Regions from separate parts of the Homo sapiens genome. Here region 1 is linked to region 2. Evidence: fine-mapped QTL for protein levels in blood plasma. A gene starts in region 2. The other region holds a variant in brackets. All regions are shown on one strand. Distances are from middle to middle.

The links. A credible set is the group of variants that fine-mapping cannot tell apart. PIP is the chance, under the fine-mapping model, that this variant and not a neighbour inherited with it causes the effect. Protein levels are from antibody-based Olink assays in UK Biobank. Linkage for the fine-mapping came from a reference panel and not from the study's own genotypes, which makes the PIPs less certain.
Region 1: its variant is the best candidate, but not a certain one, in a credible set for the plasma level of the CRELD1 protein (UK Biobank, PIP 0.61).

Annotation. Positions count from the first base shown.
Region 1 is chr3:9,943,938-9,946,837 of GRCh38, forward strand. CRELD1 (CRELD disulfide isomerase 1) reads left to right here. Exons shown (of 11, transcript NM_001077415.3): 11 at 428-1,469. The coding sequence ends at 642. PRRT3 (proline rich transmembrane protein 3) reads right to left here. Exons shown (of 4, transcript NM_207351.5): 4 at 1,605-2,900. The coding sequence ends at 2,290. Among named protein-coding and RNA genes, the nearest start is that of PRRT3-AS1, 2.0 kb to the right of the region's middle. RefSeq lists an enhancer at 1,735-2,397. The variant A/G (reference allele first, on the strand shown) is at 1,077.
Region 2 is chr3:9,933,401-9,936,229 of GRCh38, forward strand. CRELD1 (CRELD disulfide isomerase 1) reads left to right here and starts at 434. Exons shown (of 11, transcript NM_001077415.3): 1 at 434-520; 2 at 1,020-1,212; 3 at 1,435-1,517. The coding sequence starts at 1,039. It overlaps IL17RC (interleukin 17 receptor C), which reads left to right. Exons shown (of 19, transcript NM_153460.4): 19 at 1-221. The coding sequence ends at 193. RefSeq lists a silencer at 46-375 and an enhancer at 476-845.

The sequences.
Region 1 (2,900 bases), 11 kb after region 2:
CAACCCGACGCTGGAAGTTGGGTTCTCATCCCCACTCTACATATGTAAAAATGAAGATGCAGAGAGATGAAGCTACTTTCCCAGGGCTATATGGCAAGCAAGTCGCAAAGCTGGGATCCCAATCCAGACAGTCTGACCGTGGAACGAGACTCATACACGTAATAAATGCTCTGCCCCCAACTTGTCCACCACATGGCCTTGGCAAGTCCAACCCCTTTACCTCTCTGAGCCTCACTTTCCCATTTAGTGAGACAGGGATGGTAACTGCCCCTTGCAGGGTGGTTTTGAGCAGTAAATGTAGTGTGCCTGGCTTGCTGGGCAGGCCTGGTGGCCATGATGATCAGGTGTGTGGGAGTTCTGGGGAGACTCCAAGAACTACCAGGAACAGGGATACGAGTGCCAGGCTGCATCTCTTGCTCCTCTGCAGAGTCAGCAGGCTTCTTCTCAGAGATGACAGAAGACGAGTTGGTGGTGCTGCAGCAGATGTTCTTTGGCATCATCATCTGTGCACTGGCCACGCTGGCTGCTAAGGGCGACTTGGTGTTCACCGCCATCTTCATTGGGGCTGTGGCGGCCATGACTGGCTACTGGTTGTCAGAGCGCAGTGACCGTGTGCTGGAGGGCTTCATCAAGGGCAGATAATCGCGGCCACCACCTGTAGGACCTCCTCCCACCCACGCTGCCCCCAGAGCTTGGGCTGCCCTCCTGCTGGACACTCAGGACAGCTTGGTTTATTTTTGAGAGTGGGGTAAGCACCCCTACCTGCCTTACAGAGCAGCCCAGGTACCCAGGCCCGGGCAGACAAGGCCCCTGGGGTAAAAAGTAGCCCTGAAGGTGGATACCATGAGCTCTTCACCTGGCGGGGACTGGCAGGCTTCACAATGTGTGAATTTCAAAAGTTTTTCCTTAATGGTGGCTGCTAGAGCTTTGGCCCCTGCTTAGGATTAGGTGGTCCTCACAGGGGTGGGGCCATCACAGCTCCCTCCTGCCAGCTGCATGCTGCCAGTTCCTGTTCTGTGTTCACCACATCCCCACACCCCATTGCCACTTATTTATTCATCTCAGGAAATAAAGAA[A/G]GGTCTTGGAAAGTTAAAAGGCATCAGTCTTACTACCTGTCCCACCACCCCCACCTTAGGGAAATGTCCTAGAATCCTGGGAAATTGAGGGCTTCTTTGATGGTGAGTGGAGAAAAGATAGAGGAGAAGGTTGCCCCTGAAGTGCTGTTAGGAGAAGGAGGATAGAGGAATCAGCCTTAGGAGGGTTCCATGCCAGCTGTCATTTGGCAAAGGACCCTGGACAGATGACTTTTGCCTCTGAACTTCACTCTTCTCTTTCCTCAAATGGGCTTCATAATGCTTTCCACTCAGGCTTAACATGAGAATTAAATGAGGTGACAAATGTGAAGACCTGGACAGTACACAACAGATATTCAATAAAAGTGTGGTCGCCATTATGACCAGAGCCTCCAAGCCTCAAGCAACCTTTCCTCGGAGTCCTGCTCTCCGTCCAATACACAGGACTTAGAATGACTGGGAGGCAGGGCCTCCAGTCTCTCCTTCCTCCTATGAGTACAGGATCCTGGCATGGCCAGAGGGAAGCATGAGCCAAGTCCTAAGGGTTTATTTCTTTGGCACAAAGAGGACAATCTAGACAAGCGAGGCTCATCACTCCACGTTGGGGAGTCTGGGGCACCTGCTCCCTGTTCTTCATGCCCGAATCCATGCACACCCACCCTGTATTCCGCATAAGACACGGCCTCTGTGCAAAATGCCGGCTGAAAAAAAAATAGAAATATTAAAAGCAAAAAACGGCATGGGGGTGGGGTGAGTTCAAACCTGGCTGTCCCCCGGGGGTTGCCGTCAGGTAGAGAGGCCTGGGGATGCCTTTTTTTTTTTTTTTTTTTTTTTTTTTTTTGAGACGGAGTCTCACTCTTGTCACCCAGGCTGGAGTGCAATGGCGTGGTCTCGGCTCACTGCAACCTCTGCCTCCCTGTTCAAGCAATTCTCCCGCCTCAGCCTCCCGAGTAGCTGGGACTACAGGCGTGTGCCACCTGGCTAATTTTTTTGTATTTTTAGTAGAGACGAGGGTTTCGCTATGTTCGAGACCAGGAGGCTGATCTCGAACTCCTGACCTCGTGTTCCACCCACCTCGGCCTCCCAAAGTGCTGGGATTCCTGGCGTGAGCCACCGCGCCTGGCCAGGATGCCCATTTTTTAAAGGCTCAACTGTCCCAGTAGGCCATGCCATGTGGGCATCGGGCAGGGTCCTGGCCCTGCGTCAGGACCGCTCTTCAAAGCTCGATGGTATCACTGGAGGCGCTGCGGGATTCCCCAGGCTTGCCGCGCGGCTGGACCTCTCCCTGGCCGTCCCCCTGCCGAGCGGCGGTAGAATCAGGGGCTGGGGTCGGGGCAGGCAGTAGCTGTACCGTGCTGGGCAACTCATCTAGGGGCAGACTGTCCACTGATGACAGCCCGTGGCGCCAGGGGTTCCAACTGATCTTGAGTGAACCCCTGGAGAAGCTGTCGAGGGAGCTGCCAGAAGCCGCAGCGGCTGCCCCGTCGGGTGCTTCCACTACGTGCTGTGGGACCGGCCCGCGCACGCGCACGTCGCTGAGCGACCTGCAGCGGCCGCGGAGGAGCGAGGAGCCAGCGTCGTCGAGCTCGGCTTTGGGATGGCTGCCCCGGCGCGGCCGCAGAGCGCCTCCAGGCGGCGGGGAGGCCAGGCCGCGGAGGCCGCAGCGCTGGAACACACTGTCTCGCACTAGGTGCTCGCGGAAGAGCGCGGCGTCGATGCTGCGGCTCAGGTTGATGGGCGATGGCGGCCGCAGATCCAGCTCGCTCAGCGATGGCGCCGGTCCCACACCGTTGCGGGACAGTCCCGGGCCACCCTGGGGTCCGCGAC
Region 2 (2,829 bases):
CCAACTGCCAGACTTCCTGGGGGCCCTGCAGCAGCCTCGCGCCCCGCGTTCCGGGCGGCTCCAAGAGAGAGCGGAGCAAGTGTCCCGGGCCCTTCAGCCAGCCCTGGATAGCTACTTCCATCCCCCGGGGACTCCCGCGCCGGGACGCGGGGTGGGACCAGGCGCGGGACCTGGGGCGGGGGACGGGACTTAAATAAAGGCAGACGCTGTTTTTCTACCCATGTGGCCCACACGCGTCTCCGTTTCAGTGGCGGGGCTGGCAAACGTCATTCCCTAGCCCCGCGGCCCTTTAAAGCCCGGACAGGTGCAGCTCGGTGCCGCCTCTGGTTGGCTGGCGTGGGGTGACGTAATGGCACATGGCCCGTCGCCATTGGCTGGGCGGCAAGCTCCGCCCCCTGGACTGCGGCGCGGGTGGGGGTTGTGCGTTTTACGCAGGCTGTGGCAGCGACGCGGTGAGGAGACGGCCCACGGCGCCCGCGGGCTGGGGCGGTCGCTTCTTCCTTCTCCGTGGCCTACGAGGGTCTGGATCCTTCTCTGCCGGCTCGTGGGCCGTGCCTTTGCCCTTCTGCGAGGCCCTGAATCTGATCCCTTCCCTTCATATCCGGATCCGGGCTCCTCCCTCCAAGCCCGGGGTTCCGGACACCTCCCCCAAGACAACCCCTCTGGCCTCCTCTCCTTCAGTACTTGGAATCTGATCTCTTCTCCCTAATTCTGCGGATCCGGCCCCTAATATTCTTTATCAGACCCTCAGACAAGAGGCTGACTTCTGCCCCCTTGTCAAGGAGCGAGGCCACTTTCCTCTCCACCCCATGCTAGCGAGGATAACTTATTTCTCTTCTGGAATTGCATCTTATGCGCCTTTCCCCACCCATCCCCACAGCCCCTGCAATACCCAGTTTGGCCTCTTTTGCTTGTAATAACGCAGATCCCAGCGCCACGGCACCTTAGAACAGACCTTTTTCTTTCTCGCGTGGGGCCTGACTCCTTCAGTGAAGCCTCTCCACGCCCTCTATCTGCAGGTCCCCAGCCTGGGTAAAGATGGCCCCATGGCCCCCGAAGGGCCTAGTCCCAGCTATGCTCTGGGGCCTCAGCCTCTTCCTCAACCTCCCAGGACCTATCTGGCTCCAGCCCTCTCCACCTCCCCAGTCTTCTCCCCCGCCTCAGCCCCATCCGTGTCATACCTGCCGGGGACTGGTTGACAGCTTTAACAAGGTGGGTGCACCGGCAGCCTCGTTAGAGGGGAACACAGCGATTTAGAGTGGGGAACTCTGGGATGCAAATCTGCGTGGATTTAAGTTTCATCTTGGTCTCTTACTAGTTGTATGGCCCTAGGCAGGTTGCCTTTCTGTGCCTCAGTTTCCTAGTCAGTAGAACAGTGAAGTGCTAGCATGTGCCAGGCACTGTACTTAGCTATTACTAATTTTCTGTTTCCAGGGCCTGGAGAGAACCATCCGGGACAACTTTGGAGGTGGAAACACTGCCTGGGAGGAAGAGAATTTGTCCAAATACAAAGACAGGTAAGGGGCTGCTGGGGGAAGGGGTGTATATTCCCCTCCCCGCCAAATCTCTGCTCTGCTGGTGTAGGGCTAGGAACTCTTGGGGAGCACTTATTCATTCAACAAATAGCACTGAACATCTATAGTATAGCAGTAAACAAGGCAAGCAAAATGCCCCCTTCCTGGAGCTCACATTCTAGTAGAGAAGACAAGCAGTGAATGAGTAAGTGAATAATATTATGTCAGATGAAGAACAAACAGTGAAGCACGGTAGACTGCAGGACGGTGGGAGGCAAGGTGTTCAAGGTTTGGCATTTGAACAGAGAGACAGGAAGTGAAGAAGCGAGCTATGTGACAGGGAGGGAATTGGGCAGAGGATGGGACTGAGCTTGGTGTATTTGAGAAGTGGCTGGAGTGGAGTGAGCCAAGGGGAGAGTGCTAGAAGGTGAAGGCAAAGGCTTAAGCCTCGAGGGCTACAGAAAAGAGTTTAGATTTTTTTTGGAGTGTAATGGGAAGCTCTTGGAAGGCTATGAGCAGAAAAAGTGATACTGTCTTCTCTACACCTTTAAAGATTACTCACACTGCTATGTAGCAAACGGATTGTAAGGGGCAAGGGCGGAGGAAGCAGGGAGACCAGTTTGGGAGGCAAGTGCATCATCTAGGTACAAAGGCAACACAAGCTAGTGTGGTATCTAGTGGAGGACATGATGAAGAGGTCACAGTCTGGGTATATTTTGCAGAGAGAACAATAGGACCTGGTGATAGATTCATTATGGGTATAGAGAAACAGTAGAATAAAAGATGCTTACTAGATTTTGGGCCTGAGCAACTGGGTGAGTAGTGCAGCTGTTTTCTAAGATGGTGAGATGCGAAACCGAGAAGGTTTAGGGGAGGGGTGGGATGTGGTGTTCTTTGAACGTATTGGGCTGAAATGTCCATTAGACATCCAGGTAGACTCCATACAAATCTGGAATTCAGAAAAGAGTAGGAATTGGAAACAGGAATTTGAGAGTTGTCATTATATAGTCAGTATGTAAAGAAAGCCATGGGAAGGATACAGAAAGCCATTATATAGTCAATATATGTAATACAGAAAGCCATTTATATAGTCAGTATGTAAAGAAAGGCATGGGAAGGATACAGAAAGGCGAGCCCTGAGCCCTCCAGCTTTTCAAAGTCAGATGGAAGAGGAGTCAGCAAAGGCTCAGAGTTAGACCTGGTTGTCGGTTCTTAACCTCTCAGAGCCACAGTTTCTTCACCTGTAAAATGGGGATATTAATACCTGGTTTGCCTATTTCATAGAAGTGTGGAAAAGGCTTAACTGGGATGCCCA